Linked DNA regions of Homo sapiens: region 1 is linked to region 2. Evidence: fine-mapped expression QTL. Tissue or cell type: Th17 cells. Region 2 holds a variant in brackets; the other region holds the start of a gene. All regions are shown on one strand. Distances are from middle to middle.

Evidence for each region. PIP is the estimated chance that this variant, and not a neighbour inherited with it, causes the effect.
Region 1: ERP27 starts here. The variant in region 2 is fine-mapped to the expression of ERP27 in Th17 cells (Schmiedel 2018, PIP 0.95).

The regions. Positions count from the first base shown.
Region 1 is chr12:14,933,935-14,942,315 of GRCh38, reverse strand. It overlaps ERP27 (endoplasmic reticulum protein 27), which reads left to right and starts at 3,779. Exons shown (of 7, transcript NM_152321.4): 1 at 3,779-3,901; 2 at 4,264-4,364; 3 at 7,323-7,460. The coding sequence starts at 3,808. ARHGDIB (Rho GDP dissociation inhibitor beta) reads left to right here. Exons shown (of 6, transcript NM_001175.7): 6 at 1-285. RefSeq lists an enhancer at 4,264-4,323.
Region 2 is chr12:15,151,816-15,160,196 of GRCh38, reverse strand. All of the region lies in intron 2 of RERG (RAS like estrogen regulated growth inhibitor), which reads left to right. It overlaps RERG-AS1 (RERG antisense RNA 1), which reads right to left and starts at 8,274. Exons shown (of 3, transcript NR_046559.1): 1 at 8,127-8,274; 2 at 5,857-5,957; 3 at 4,914-5,001. The variant ATT/T (reference allele first, on the strand shown) is at 4,194.

The sequences.
Region 1 (8,381 bases), 220 kb after region 2:
TGATCCTCCATCAGGGCCAGATCTTCCACGTCTCCATCTCAGTACACAATCATTTAATATTTCCCTGTCTTACCCCTATTCAAGCAACTAGAGGCCAGAAAATGGGCAAATTATCACTAACAGGTCTTTGACTCAGGTTCCAGTAGTTCATTCTAATGCCTAGATTCTTTTGTGGTTGTTGCTGGCCCAATGAGTCCCTAGTCACATCCCCTGCCAGAGGGAGTTCTTCTTTTGTGAGAGACACTGTAAACGACACAAGAGAACAAGAATAAAACAATAACTGTGTGTGTTCTGGCTGAGACCTTCATTTCCCTGCTTTCTTGCTTTGAACAAATATGATAACTGGATGGTTCACATTCATGAGTTCCCTCAGAGGGGATGGGGATGAGGAAAACACACTGGAGGAGATATTTACATCTTTGGGAACAAATTGGTCCCCTATTACACTATAATAGGCAATGCACATTCAGAATACAGCCAGTGGGAAATCTACATTTTACTTATTTAGTTAGCTATTTTTAATTTCGACTTTTATATTAGGTATAGAGGGTACATGTGCAGGTTCGTTACATGGGTATATTGCATCCAGGTAGTGAGCCTAGTACTAAATAGATAGTTTTTCAAAAAATGCCCCACTCCCTCCCTTACCCCTCAGGTAGTCCACAGTGTCTACTGTTTCTATGTTCATGTCTATGTGTGTTCAGTGTTTAGCTCCCACTTATAACTGAGAACATATGGAAGTTGGTTTTCTGTTTCTGCATTGCTTTGCTTAGGATTATGGCCTCCAGCTTCATCCATATTGCTGCAAAGGACATGATTTTACTTTTTTATTATGACCATATAGTATATCATGGTATATATGCACCACATATTTTATCCAATCCACCATTAATGGGCAACTACATTAATTCCGTGTCTTTGCTATTGTGAATGGCACAACAATGAACATACATGTGCATGTCTGTTTGGTACAACAATCTACTTTCCTTTGGATATATACATAGTAATGGGGTTGCTGAATCAAATGGTAGCTCTGTTTCAAGTTTTTTGAGAAATCTTCAAACTGGTCACTCTCCATACGTTCGTAAAAATATTATGCCTTGGAATGCTAACGTTACTCCTAAAAATTGGAGTACTCTCCTTGGCCTTACTGTAGAGATAAAAGGTATAGATGTCCTCATTACTTAGAGTTGCTTTCCACAGTGGCTGAACTACGTAACTGCTTAAGCTACATCCCCATGAATAATGTATAAGCATTCCCTTTTCTCTGCAGTCTCACAGTGTCTGTTGTTTTTTGATTTTTTAATAATGGCCATTCTGACTAGTGTGAGATTGTATCTCATTTTGGCTTTGATTTGCATTTCTCTGATAATTAGTAACGTTGAGCATTTTTTGTAGGCTTATTGGCCTCTTGTGTGTCTTCTTTTCAGAAGTATCTGTTTATGCTCTTTGCCCATTTTCTATTGGGGTTATTTGTTTTTTGCTTCTTGATTTGTTTAAGTTTCTTATGGATTCTGAATATTAGACCTTTGTTGGATGCATAGTTTGCATATGCTTTCTCCCATTTTGTAGATTGTCTATCAATAGTTCCTTTTGCTCTGAAGAACCTCTTTAATTAGGTCCCACTTGTCAATTTTTGTTTTTGTTGCAATTGCTTTTGAGGACTTAGCCAAAAATTACTTGTCAAGATTAATGTCAAAAAGAGTATTTCCTAGGTTTTCTTCTAGGACTTTTATGGTTTGAGGTCTTAAATCTTTAATTCATCTTGAGTTAACTTTTTATATGGTGAAAGATGAGGGTGCAGTTTCATTCTTCTGCATATGGCTAGCCAGCTATCACAGCACCATTTATTGAGTAGGGAATCCTTTCCCCATTGATTGGTTTTGTTAACTTTGTCGAAGATCAGATGGTTGTAGGTATATGACTTTATTTCTGGGTTCTCTATTCTGTTCCATTGGTCTATGTGTTTGCTTTTGTACCAGTACCATGCTATTTTGGTTACTGTAGCCTTGTAGTATAGTTTGAAGTTGGGTAATGTGACGCCTCTGTTTTTGTTCTTTTTGATTAGGATTGCTTTAGCTAGTCAGACTCTTTTTTGGTTCCATATAAATTTTAGAATAGTTTCTTTTCTAATTCTGTGAAGAATGACGTTGGTAGTTAGATAGGAATAGCACTGAATCTGTTAATTTCTTTGGGCAGTATGGCCATTTTGAAGATACTGATTCTTCCTACCCATGAGCATGGAGTGTTTTTTCATTTGTGTCACCTCTGATTTCTTTCAAAAGTGTTTTGTATTTCTCCTTGTAGAGATATTTTACCTCCTTGGTTATCTGTATTCCTAGGCATTTCATTTTATTTGTAGCTATTGTAAATGAAATTGTGTTCTTGATTTTACTCTCAGCCTGGACATTATTGCTGTATAGAAATGCCACTAATTTTTGTACACTTATTTTTTTCCTGATACCTTACTGAAATCATTCATCAGTTCCAGTAGCCTTTTGGCAGAGTCTTCAGAGCTTTCTAGGCATACAATCATATTGTCAACAAGGAGAAATAGTTTGACTTTTTCTTTTCCTGTTTAGATGCCTTTTATGTCTTCCTCTTGCCTAATTGCCCTGGCTAGGGCTTCCTAATTTCTTTTGTAATATTTTCACATGAAAATTCTCCTAAGCTTAAAACTACATATCCCAATGCCTGTGGAAATCTCATCTTGGACTTCCTCAGACACTTGTGAGCAAAATCAAACTTCATCTCATTCTTCTGCTTAAGACTTTTCAGTGGTTCCCATCACCTACAGAATAAAATTGATGCTCCCGCGCTTAGTGTATCATATAAAGCCTGCTGTGAGCTGGTCCCAACATGCCTTTCTGTCCACATGTATCACTTCCTTCCTTTTCATCATTCTCAATTACTAGTAATTCTGTCACACATTATATTTGCATATCTGTGCTTTGGTTCTTTTTTTTTTTTTTTTTTTTTTTTGAGACGGAGTCTCGCTCTGTCGCCCAGGCTGGAGTGCAGTGGTGCTATTTCGGCTCACTGCAAGCTCTGCCTCCCGGGTTCAGGCCATCCTCCTGCCTCAGCCTCCCGAGTAGCTGGGACTACAGGCGCCCGCCACCACACCTGGCTAATTTTTTGTATTTTTAGTAGAGATGGGGTTTCACCATGTTAGCCAGGATGGTCTCAATCTCCTGACCTCGTGATCCACCTGCCTCAGCCTCCCAAAGTTCTGGGATTACAGGTATGAGCCACCACGCCCGGCCTGTGCTTTAGTTCTTTACATGAAACTCCCTTTCTACCTTGTGTTGCCTGGCAAAATCTTACTTACCCAGAACTCTGCTCCGGCATCCTCCGCAGGAAGAACACTTTCATTGAACCCTAGCATTGTCCCTAATACCCTTAATATGTATTGTCATAGCACCCTATGAATTTTTCTATATCACTTTCCATCTTATATTTAAATAATCTTTTTACTTGCCCATCTCTCCCACTGATAATCTAAGCTGGCAGAGGCTGGATCAGATCATAATTATCTTTCTATTCTTAGCGCTAGGATCAATGCCTGGCATAGCATATTTACATTTTTTATTTAAATAAACTGACCTGACTTTCTTCTGGTTGGATATGTTCTGAGTCCCTATTACTAACCTTGGTCTTTTATCTCAGAAGTTGAAGGCTCCCCTGGAGCCAGCTGCAAAGTTCCCAAAGCCCTAACAACCCCACAGCCAATCAGCTACAGAGTAGGCTGCCCTGAGTCGGCCTCCCCAACACAAAGTCCAGGGTTGGAGCAGGAGCAGGAGAGGGACAATGGAAGCTGCCCCGTCCAGGTTCATGTTCCTCTTATTTCTCCTCACGTGTGAGCTGGCTGCAGAAGTTGCTGCAGAAGTTGAGAAATCCTCAGGTAAAAGAAAAATGTAGTTGGGTGGCTATAGTGTGAAAGTGTTATTAGGAGAAGGAAAGGGAGCATGGTGGTTCTCTGGGTACTTTTCCTCCACACCTAGAAAGCTTTCCAGGAAATCCTGGATAAGTGCATTTTGCCTGGTAGAGAGTAGGGAAGTCTGGCAGTATCCTTCAGAGACAGACCATCAGTAGGGTCACCTTCCATATGTTAGTAAAAATATTATGCCTTGGAATGCCAACAGTACTCCTATAAATTGTGCTCTTCTTGCCCTTAGTATAGAGATAAAAGGTATAGATGCCCTCATTATTTAGAGCTGCTTCTTCTTGCCTCAGTACCCTGACATCTTCTGCTTCTCTCTCTAGATGGTCCTGGTGCTGCCCAGGAACCCACGTGGCTCACAGATGTCCCAGCTGCCATGGAATTCATTGCTGCCACTGAGGTGGCTGTCATAGGCTTCTTCCAGGTTAGTTCCCTACTTGCAATTCCCCCAAGAGCCAGAAATGTTCTACCTTAAGGGAACCACAGCAGCCACCTGCTGCTGGCAGATGGCACTGCATTAGAAGTGGGGGTAAAGGGAGACAGCCACCCAGTTTGATTTCATCTTGTCCATTGGGACCTCTTATTTTCAAGACATTCCCAGTCTCTAAATTATATCTTTCTCATACTTACTTCAAGAGTTCTGAGCCTGTGGGCTGCATCTCCTCATCTATGGATGCTTTGAAGCTCAAGTCAGTATCTGCAGAAAGAATGCCTTCATGGAACCCCACCATTGTCCTAAACACATTTGGTCTATACTCTCATAGCACCCTATGAATAGGCAGGGGCCAGAGTGAACCCAATTTATATCATCCAGCAACACTGTTTACAGGATGCCAAACATCCTGGACATTAGTCAGTGCACAGCCTTTTAAAGCCTTTCCCCCAAATATGGTAGACTCTCCTTCTTTCTCTTTGCCTTGTCTGAAATGTTGGAAAATGATGGCATTTTGTATATTCAAGGTGTTAACCTCCATCTTCCAGATTAGCTTCTTGACTAAGAAAGGCAGCCATAAATGAGACTGCCTCATTCCAGCATTTTCATCTTTCTCTGGTGGTAGCATCTGGAAATCCTCACAGCTGATCAAGCCCCTACTCTCTCATAGCAGACCTTCTTGTCTGTTTCCATTTCTCAGTTACAACTCCTGATTACCCTGTCAGTTCTGCGTACACAGTTGGAAATCACTGCAATGAGATGCAAGTCAGGGAGAAAGACAGGGACAACATTTTTCAGGAATGAGAAATCTGAGCTGTAGACAAAAACACCGTCAGAAAGATGGGGAAGGGGCAAGAGCATGGAATTGGAGGAGTGTGCAATAACTTAAACAGCCGCCAGATGCCATCATTTTATCCTCCAGCAATTCCATCTGAAGGAGCAGAATAAGAGAGGAGGCCTCAATTAATTATTGTTCATGGCCTCTAGAAGAGTAGATACCAGCTCCCTCTGCTTGACCCCAGATGCAAGACGGGTATGTTAGTTTCTTCTCATGCTGCCAATAAAGACATACCCAAAACTGGATAATTTATAAAGGAAAGAGTTTTAATTGAATCACAGTTCAGCATAGCTTGGAAGGCCTGAGGAAATTTACAATCATGGCAGAAGGAACCTCTTCACAGGATGGCAGGAGAGAGAATGAGCACAAGCAGGGGAATGCCAGACGCTTAAAAAACCATCAGATCTTGTGACTCATGCACTATCACGAGAACAGCATGGGGGAAACTGCCCCCATGATCCCATTACTGCCACCTGGTCCCACCCTTGACATGTGGGGATTATGGGGATTACATTTAAAGATGAGATTTTAGGTAAGGACACAGCCAAACCATATCAACTGGCCATCTTCTTTTCTCCTTGCACATCTCCTCCTTCAGCCTGGGGACTTGCAGGGTAGAACATGTTTGTTCCTGTTAATTTCCTGGAGCTGCTATGGATAAAGGTCCCGTGAGAGCAGGGAAAATGATGCCAGCGTCTATGGAAGGCCTGGAATCACTGTTCGCAAGTGGCTTCTCTGCTGCCTCCTGCAGGCCTGGGCTGCAGAGTTGAATGCGTGAACAGCATCTTCATGTGCAAAGCTCAGGTTTATCTACAGTGGCAAGAGAGGGACTGTCCTTCCATAACCTGCATAAACTTTTGTTAAAACTTCTAAGCTTTCATTTTAATTGTTTTATTTTTCTTCTTTTTTTCTTTTTTGGCCCTTTTGATGGCGTCTATTTCATATTTTTGCATTTTTTCCTTTCATCCACAAATGTAACCAAAGCCAAAACTCAAGAGGAAGAGCCGGTGGGAGGAAAAGCCAGTTTATTTGAAGATCCAGTAAACCAAGAAGACAGCGGACTAGCATCCTAAAGTACATCTTGGCCGGGCACAGTGACTCACACCTGTAATTCTAGCACTTTGGGAGCCTGAGGGAGGTGGATTGCCTGAGCTCAGGAGTTCAAGGCTGGCCTGGGCAACATGGCAAAACCACATCTCTACTAAAAATACAGAAAAAATTAGCCAAGTATGGTGGTGAACACCTGTAGTCCCAGCTACTCAGGAGGCTGTGGCACAAGTATCCGTGAGGCAGAGGTTGCAGTGACCCAAAATTTTGCCACTGCACTCTAGCCTGGGTGACAGAGCAAGACTCTGTGTCAAAATAAATAAACAAAGTACATCTTAAGCCACTACCAATTTTAGGTTCTTTGTATGTTAAGGGCAGGGTGAAGAGGAGGGAGTTGGGATCAAGTGATAACCGGCAACCACAGGCATCTGGGCCCCAGCAAGTGTCTCAGGAAGTTGGGAACTTCTTTGTCCTTGGTCAGGTCACAAGGCACCTATAAATCTGTAGCACTACATAGTTAGTTGTTTACATACTTTTCCTTTAATCCCAGAGTTAGTTTTAAAAACTATATAACTCCTATTTTTGCCTATTATCTCAGTGCTCTAAAATTATTCTAACCTACATGCAGGAATGAGTAAATAAATGCCCTTTAAACAAAAATAGAGTTGGTTATGTTAGTTTGTTTGCTATTTCACCGTTAAACAAATTGTTCCCAGAAGAGTTGCTTCTCATGTGTATCTACAACAGTGCAGCCAAACTAGGCAGGCCTTTATGATTTTGAGGCCTCTCTCAGCCCCTAGTAAACTTCAAGCTCTATGACAAGGCCTGACAGGAGTCTCAGGCTCAGCTACAATTTCGTGGTTACCTATTAACTTACAGAGCCTGGAAAATTCAAGAATGTCACTGCCAGTTAAACCTGAATTGTTAGGGGTAAATCATGTGTTACTGGGCAGTAAATCAAATCTATGATTTCTGGTAAACATCATATCATATTTCTTTTGCCTATCGTTTGTCTCTGCCCTTCGAAATAACCACTGTGGTATTATTTTTTCTCTTGTTTTTAGGATTTAGAAATACCAGCAGTGCCCATACTCCATAGCATGGTGCAAAAATTCCCAGGCGTGTCATTTGGGATCAGCACTGATTCTGAGGTTCTGACACACTACAACATCACTGGGAACACCATCTGCCTCTTTCGCCTGGTAAGTTGGGTGGGTAGCTTGAGCTTTCTCCCAGATTTTCACTGGGTTGTGGACTCATAAACTTGTGAGACTGGAAAGGACTCTATGTCTTTTACACTAATGATGGTACCAAATTCAGGGACATTGTTGACAAGGATGATGACTCAATTCAAGCTTCCCAAACAGGTACTGTAATGAAATGGAAAGAGGACAGGACTGAAAGCCAGGGAATGGAATTTGTGGTACTGCTTTGTCGCTCAACAGCCACATGACTTTGGGCAGTCACTTAACATTTTTTATCTCCAATTCTTTCCTTTATAAAATAAAAGAGTTAGACTGTATTATCTCTAAGGTCACTTTGAGCTCCAAAATTTTTATATTAAATATTTTGAGGAGTTCATTTATGTTCTTCAAACATTTATTAAATACTTCCTGTATGCCCTATGCAAGATACCGATAATAAAAACATATTAAATATATTCTCCAGTCTCATAGATCTTTAAGTATGGTAGGTATTGTATATATAATATGCAAGTATCTATAATAAAAAGAGAATCACTATGGGTAAAGTTTTATCACAGTTCAAAGGATAGAAACAGTGTGGGAATTCTGAAAAAAAAGAAAAGAAAAAGACAACAGAATTGAAACTTGAAGGATAGATAAGTTTAGACAAGCTAAAGAATTCATGGCCAACGGGAAAAAACTCAGGAAACAATAAACAGGCCAATCTCACTGGATCCCAGGGTACACATTGGGGAAAATGAATATAAGAGAAAGAAACTTGATTAAAATCGTATTGTGGGGAAAAAGTAGAATACCACTTTAATGAGTTTGTCCTGAATTTGGCTGTTACTGGAAAGCCCCTAAAGCCTTTACATCAGGGGAGTAACATGAACAGAAATGTGTTTTATTAGATTATTTTGACAGCAAGGTGGAGGATGG
Region 2 (8,381 bases):
CAAAACAAAAAAAAATGACCAAAATGTGCACATATATATATGCACATATATAGAAGTGTACAAATAAAAACTGCTCAACTGTGGAGAACTGTACTTAGCCATTATAATGAAACAGATTTGCTGTTTTATACAAGTAGAAATTTGTTATAGATACTAAATATTCGTGTTCATTTTTCCCTCTATTTTCCAAAATGTATGATAATCTCTACTGCTTTCTTCCTTCTTATATCAACTATGGAATATCAAAATTTTCTTAATTGTCTTAGGCCAAGATGCATTAAATCTCACCCTTTTCCATTGTTTGGAAGATAAATTTGGTTGGGATTTTTTGTTGTTGTTTTGTTTCCATTAAGATTTTTTTGTTTGTTTGTTTGAGACGGAGTCCTGCTCTGTCGCCCAGGCTGGAGTGCAGTGGCACAATCTCGGCTCACTGCAAGCTACGCCTCCCGGGTTCACACCATTCTCCTGCCTCAGCCTCACAAGCAGCTGGCACTACAGGCGCCCGCCACCACGCCCAGCTAAGTTTTTGGTATTTTTAGTAGAGACGGGGTTTCACTGTGTTAGCCAGGATGGTCTCGATCTCCTGACCTCGTGATCTGCCTGCCTCGGCCTCCCAAAGTGCTGGGATTACAGGCGTGAGCCACCGTGCCCAGCCCTCCATTAAGATTTTTTAAATTGTATCAATAGATATAAATATGTCCAAATCAATAACTTTTATTTGAAAACTAAAAATCCTGAGAGGCCAAATACAATGTTTAAAATATATAGTTAAATCAATAATAATTCTCCCTTCTGTAAAAGTAAATAATTATCTTTATGTGAGAACGAAAAAGGTATTTCTGTACTAGTAAGGCAGCAAATTATGCAAAAGCATGAACTACTATTGTGGTTGTAGGCCACAAATGGTAGGGACCTATCAAGAGGACACAAGAACCAGCTTGAAAGGACTCTCCCTGGTGACTTCTGAGACAAAGTAATGTCAGTAATGGATTACAATCCATTGAACAAAAAAAGAATACATGGTTCCCTGTTGATATAAACAGTAAGTGTATAAAAAAATCAACAGGGAGAAAGACAAGTTCTTTCTTACAATAGAATATCAACCAATAAATGTAGAAGAAATGACAAGTTAGAAAACTATCATTCGGAAATTATCAAAATAATTGATTCAGGCAGGAGTCACCAGTGGAGGCTGAAACTAATGAGTGAAAGTGTGGTGAGGATCAGGATATTTACATAGTTTCAGAATATCTTCCACAAATTGCTCATTAATTGTCAGATAGAAAAATAATAACTTTACATTGGAAAATTCTAAAAAAATGCCACCTTAATAAAATAAAATAAAATAATGCCACCTTAATAAAATAAAGTTCATGTCACCAATGATGGGACATGAACCAACAACATATGCCTCCTGATATGAAGCACTAAGAAGGACACACATCGTTCTGTAGCATTTCTGCCCCAAAATACCTAATCCGAATCTAATTATGAGGAAGTATTAGACAACTGAGGGACATTTTAGTCTATCTCTCTTGAAAAACTGTGTACTCTTCAAAATTCCTTATACTCTGCAAAAATGTCAAAGATGAAATATCATTAAAAAATGCTGAGAGGCCAGGCACAATGGTTCACACTTGTAATCCCAGCACTTTGGGAGGCCGAGGTAGGTGGATCGCTTGAGCCCAGGAGTTTGATCCCAGCCTGGGCAACACAGTGAGACCCCATCTCTTAAAAAAATGCAAAAATTAGCCAGGTGTGGTGATGTGTGCCTGTAATCCTAGCTACTTGGGAAGCTGAAGTGGGAAGATCACATGAGCCCAGGAGGTCGAGGCTGCAGCGAGCCAAGATCATAACACTGTGTTCCAGCCTGGATGACAGAGCGAGATTCTATCTAAAAAAAAACAAAAAAACAAAAAAACTGAGGAACTGTTCCAATTTAAAAGAGTGTAAAGAGTTATAACAACTAAATGCTATGTTCAGTCCTAGATTAGATTCTGGACCAAGGAGAGGAAAGTAACTAGAAAGGGCATGATTGGGACAATTGAAGAAATTCAAATATAGACTGTGGATTAGATAATGTCATTGCATCATGTTAAATTTTCTGATATTGATAATTATACTTTTGTTATCCTACAAAATGTATTTATTATGAAGTATAGATATTGAAACACTTAAATGTAAGGAGGCAAAATGTTTCCAACTTATTCTCAGGTACAGAAAAATATGAATGTGTGTATATATATTTATTTATACATAAATATTTATGTATAGAGAGAAGGGAGAGTGAATGATAAAACAAATGGGAAAAATGTAAACAGTTTGTGGATCTGGATAAACAGAATATGAGAGTTATGTAATCTTTTCTCATAGCTTTTTTCTAAGTTTGAAAATATATACAAAAGAGTGACAAAAAAATGTTGAAAAGCAAAATTTTCTCATCAGTAAAGGCAGTCATTTACATTGTACTGTGATGAAAAAGAAAAGCCTGGCTTATTCAAATAAGCAGCCAAAGCTCTTATTTCCTAGTCATCAGTTATCTTTGCGTGCTTTGAAGTTGGAGTTCTCTTTCATGTTTGTATTGTTTTTATTTGTTTGTAAGTATAATGTGGGAACCAAAAAGAGTGAAAATGGGACACTCTGGTAAGTTATCTCTACCACTTTAGGGGACAGGAAGCAGCTGACAAGCTTTAGCACTACATTTTCATGGTTGTTTCCCAAGAATGGCCATAAATTACATCCTTCAAGTCAGTCCCAACTAGTGGGAATTCATATGAAAAATTACTTGCTGGTTCTCAAGCTTCTTGCACGTCCCTCTTGACATTTTGTCATAGGAAAACTGGGGGTGGATGGATTGTAAAATATTTCTCAACATTACAAAACATTTTAAAGCTGATACCAGACCTACACTCATATCTGCTGATTACAAATAATTCTAAGCTATTCTGGTATGCCCTGAGCATCTGTCTTATATGCAAAATAAGTGGCCTCTTCTGTTTTCCCCTGTCTTCTTGAACTGTCTGTCTCTTTTCAAAAACTGTGTATTCTTCAAAATTCCTGCAATGCCGAATGAAAAACGGAGGCCATCCACTACAGTGGAAAATGTAGAGCAACTCCAAGAAAAGAGGCTGGAAGAAAAGACAGGCTTAGAGATGTCTGACAGACTTGAAGATGGTTTCCATTTTCCCATTTTGCAAGAGGGGCAATGGATCCTCTAACAACAGAGCCTGAGTTAGTATGTTATCATGTATTACCTCGTTTAATCCCCTCAATATCTCTATGAGATAGGCACTATTTTTATCCCTATTTTGTAGCTCAGATACAGGCTTAGAGGTTTAGAGAAGTAAATAACTTGTCAAATGTGAGTAGTAGGGTTGAGATTTGCACGAAAATGCGCCTGACTTCAGGGTCTGACTTAAGCTTAAACTGCCTTGTTTTATTGATCATATTGATCACTCTATTTCTTTCTCCTGAGGACTCGCAAAGCAATGATAATACCATTCTGCTCTTGCATCATTTGTTGCACATTCTTGTTTAGAAAGAAAATACTAACAACTATTAGAGATTTTCTGAACCTAGTAATTTCATTAACAAGCATTCCCCAAGTCTACAGGGCAAATTTTTTGATACTCACAATGTTACTTCTTGTGAAAATTTTGAAGTGATTTCTGAATCATCAGAGAGATAGAGATTAAAGTGACACTGTTTTAAAAGTTGGTAATTATCATACAATTGCATGAAAGCTGATGTGGTATTTGTGGTAAACTTCCGTATTAGGATGGGTAAGCCTGTATGGCAGGGTTCTTAACCTGAACTCCAGATCCAGCAAAGGGTCCACAGGTAGATTTCAGGGGGTCTGTGAACTTGTATGGGAAAACATTTCATCTACATTTTCATGCACCCTTAAATGACATTTGGCACTGCCTTCCATGATGAATGTAGAAACAAATCACAGTGTTAGCAATACCTGTGACTTTGTCCCTAATAGAAATGATGGATATTTCCATTCGTATCAGTTGTTGCTGATATCTCAAAATGTTATTTTTCGTCATCATTAATGTGAAATCATAATTAATAAGCTCAAGACCAGATTATATTGAACATATTAATAAAGAATGTAATTACTATATCACCTATTTATTTTAAAAAATGTTTTTCTAACAGTATATCAATATTTATAAATATATATATAT[ATT/T]TTTTTATTATACTTTAAGTTTTAGGGTACATGTGCACTTTGTGCAGGTTAGTTACATATGTATACATGTGCCATATTTCATCATAGTTGATTTTATTTGTAATGACATATATTTTATATATATTTAAAAAGTATTATTATGAGAAATAGTTCAAAGGCTGTGCACAAATGGTTTACAGCACAAAAGGGGTGAAAGATCCAGCTCTATAATATAAACTTCATGGTAGCCCTAGTGGAGAATACCCTTGCTTAACAACTGGCTGTTTTCAGAGTCCCCTGGGGGCCCTGCAGTGACTCCAGGAGTAGAGAAAGGCTGTAAATGCTAGAACAAGATAATTGTCAGGTACTACCAAGAAGCCCTACCCAGCCTTCCCAATTAGAAGACAGGAGTCCCCCAATCCCAACCACTTTCAGGTCCTAGTTTCTGCCCAACCCCATTACCTGTTCTTCTTACTCAATTTTAATGAAAGCAGCTCTACTGGCAGCAACTTCATTGTGACCCCAGTGCTCTGGCAAGCTGGGCCTGTGTCAGCAGGCCACAGGGGTGGATGAGAGCCAAGACTTTTGTGATTGCCTCTACCCTCATTTTCCTGTGGAAACACAGCTCAGAAGGACTATGCTGGAGGGTTGATCAGCTTGGTTATGTATTTGCTTTGCGGAAACCTTAAGTTGTCCTTTTATGTGTCACTTTCTCTCATTTCATTTTTTTAATCCTTTATTTTCCAACAGGCAGGTTCTGGTCACACCTACCCAGGTGGCACCAGGTGTGTGCATGTTTTTCCAAAAGTTACAATGCAGCATAGACACTGGAAAATGAAGATGAAAAAACACAGTGGTGTTAGATTACTTCATATACTTCAACACCATGCCTGCTTTTTCCTTTTTTTAATTGCTTGTTTTATATTCTTTATTTAGTTTTTTCCAGTCTGAATATCTCTTAGCTGAGTTTCTTATCCCAATTAATCATTTTATACATACACTGGTTTCTTTTCCAAGTCTCTTTGTAAAGCAAGAATCAATATGAGGTGTCAGTGTCTAAAGCCTTCACACTTAGCAACTTAACATTTTAAAAAATGAAAATATATAATACTACAATTTCATTTAAATTAACTATTCTGAAGCTCCTCCATCAAATATTAGGAAAGACCCTTTTAAAGTTTAATACATTTTTAAAATTCTAGGTATGAAAATTCTGTTTACATAATAGTCTTTAAGTTGCTGTCTCACCTAAATAAGACACAGAGGCAGTGTTTATGAATATGATTGCCGAGTGAGATTGAGACAAATTTCAACCTACATTGATTGTCCTATTTGGCAGGAGACCAACGAGCTGCCACATAATGTACGCACCAGAAGACTGGCTATGTTCTTTGGCCATCAGCGGATGTCCATGGTTGCTGCCTATAATTGCAGTGTTTTTCCCATTCTGCAAATTTCTCATTAATCAGGTTACTTTAGCTATTTGGCCAAATTTTCCTCGAAGAAAATGAAATACAATCAATCCCTGATTCTTTTCTGATTATTAGAGACACTGCTCTCCTTCATAAGGAACAATAATCAAAGTAGAATTTATATTTGGCTTCATAATGCAATATGTGAGTTTTTCCAACAGATTTGCCCTCTTAATTGCTTTGGTCTGGCAAACTTTAAAAGGAACTTGCCTTACGTGGATGGCAGTATGAGGTTGTCCAGAACTGAACCGGGTGGTTGGCAATCTGAACAAAGCTTCTGTGCTTTATTGATTGCCAGGGAGACTCGGGGGCTAAATGGCAAGCCAAAAGACAAGGATTCAGAATATATAACTGTACTAGTTTGCTAGCACTGCCTCAACAAAGTACCACAAGCTGGGGGGCTTAAACAACAGAAATTTACTGCCTCATGCTTCTGGAGGCTAGAACTCCAAAATCAAGGCGTCAGAAGGATTGGTTCCTTCCAAAGTCTGTAAGGGAGGATCTGTTCCCTGCCTCTGTCCTAGCTTCTGGTAACCTCAGGCCGTCCTTGGCTTGCAGATGGTGTTCTCCTTATGTTTCCATATCATCTCTCTGTGTGTGTCTGTCTCTGTGTCCAAATTTCCCCATTTCATAAGAACATAGTCATATTTAATCACTTAGGGCTTACTCCAATGAAATCATCTTAGCTTGATCATCAACAAAGATCTTATTTTTAAATAAGGTCACATTCACAGATACTAAGATTAGGACTTCAGTGTCCTTTGAGGGGACACAATTCAACCCATAACACTATCTATCTTGAAAAATCACCAGAGAGGATAATTTATAGCCATTGGTAAAATTTATGCAAATCATACAATTTCCCTTCAGTCAATGCATTTATTCTGGGTGCCATATTTAGATGATAGGCTGCCAAAAGTAATGCACCGTGAATATTCTTTTTCTTTATATTATAAAAGCTATTCAATTACTCCTGGATTTTCCAGGAACTATGGTTCTCTAGTTCCTTATAAATCTCAATGGTATTTTTCTGAATCTTACTGCTTTCCTTTTATTTATAAATACTAGACTCTCCCACTTTAAGCAAATTTCTAAAGACTGGGGTAAAAGATCTCTTTTGTGAGCAAAGTGCATGTCTAGGGCCCTGTTATTTAAGAAATTTAAGATCATCAATTTCAAACATTCAAAGCCTATACTGCTGGTTCATATTTTTCACTATCCAGAACAGTAATCTTCACAATGGTTAGCTGTGTTCTCTAAAAGTCGCAGATAATTGTTATCACATTTAAAATCAAGCACCCATCACAACTCCCCAGTTCTTTCTTTTAGGAAAACCTAAAGAAACCTTGGATGACCTTAAGACTCTATGGAAAAGCTGGAAAAACACTGACCCAGAAAACAAATGTGTAACAAGTCACATTTTTTCCATTACTTAAGGGAAATTGTGGTGCGAATTTTTTTCTTAATCTCTCTGCTAAGTGTAAATATGTGACTCACCCGAACTACCTCATTCTTAGACCATAAATATTAGGAGTGATGACTTATAAGGGGCTCATGTTCATGTGTGGTAAGTAAATACTTGTCTGCACATATTAATTTAACAAGAAAATGGCATTTTCCTAAGTAGCATAACATCAGAAACAGTAGAGAATTTAATATAAGTAAAAAGCAGTGTTATATTTTAAGAAAATTACTATGATGAAAGAATTCATTTTTTTCAAAGAGTAATATAATAATATTAGGCTTTAATACCTAAGAACATGCATGCTAGATCTGGTTCCAATCCAAAAAAGTTCTATGAAACTTCAAATACCATGTGAAGGTTAACTTTTAAAAATACATTTCTTCAGAGCAAATTTCTATTCCTAGTCCATGCGAAACCACAGGGTGGTGCTCCAGCTGGACTGGTTTCCTCAATTCAAGTTATCCTTGTCCAGTTTCCTTCTTAGGGCACTGCTACATGAAAACCTGATGTGTTCTGTGTTCTTGCAGCAAACTCCTACTGTGTCCTATCTTGGCTCAGGCAGGACAAAATGAAGCTCTCCATCTCTAGGAGGTGGCTTGCTTCAGAGCCTTCTCTGTCCAAAACAAGAGTTTTTTCCATATTGTTTCTCTCTAGGCTTTTGAAATTAGAGGGGAAACACTATGGATAATAGCTTCAGAAAATATGAAAAGCTCACCTATTACAGCAGATGGGACTGAAGTATCAGTCCATATCTAAGGCAGGTGAATTGGTGCATTTGAAGCATTCCAAGTCAGTAGGACAGCCAGAAATATGAAATGAAAAGCACTAGTTTTCCTTAGCAATGAAATTTTGACTCCTATGACTTTGCTAATGCTGTGTTCTGCTTTCCTTTCTGCCTATTCTATTTGTACAACCTTCTGTGCCTTCCTCAGATGGCTTTCCAAAACATCTGTGGGCAATATTCCCTTCACTGAACAGCAATGGTACTTTAAGTGCAAAACAAAACAGCATTTACCTTTTGCAATTTATAGTTCCTGGGTTATTTCATGTGCCTTGTGGTTATCTCAGGAGCCCTTTATTAATCTCCGAACTGTAGGCAAGAAGGTGGTCTTGTTGTCATGGTAATAACTTCAGTACTTAGCACATGGAACGCAGCATTTATTGTAAAATACTTTTCCAATCAAATGGTTGCAGCAGTTTTAGAAGTCATAACAGTAAGGGTAGCATGCAGTTCATGAATTCCTTCATCAGGAGGAAAAGACTGACCTGA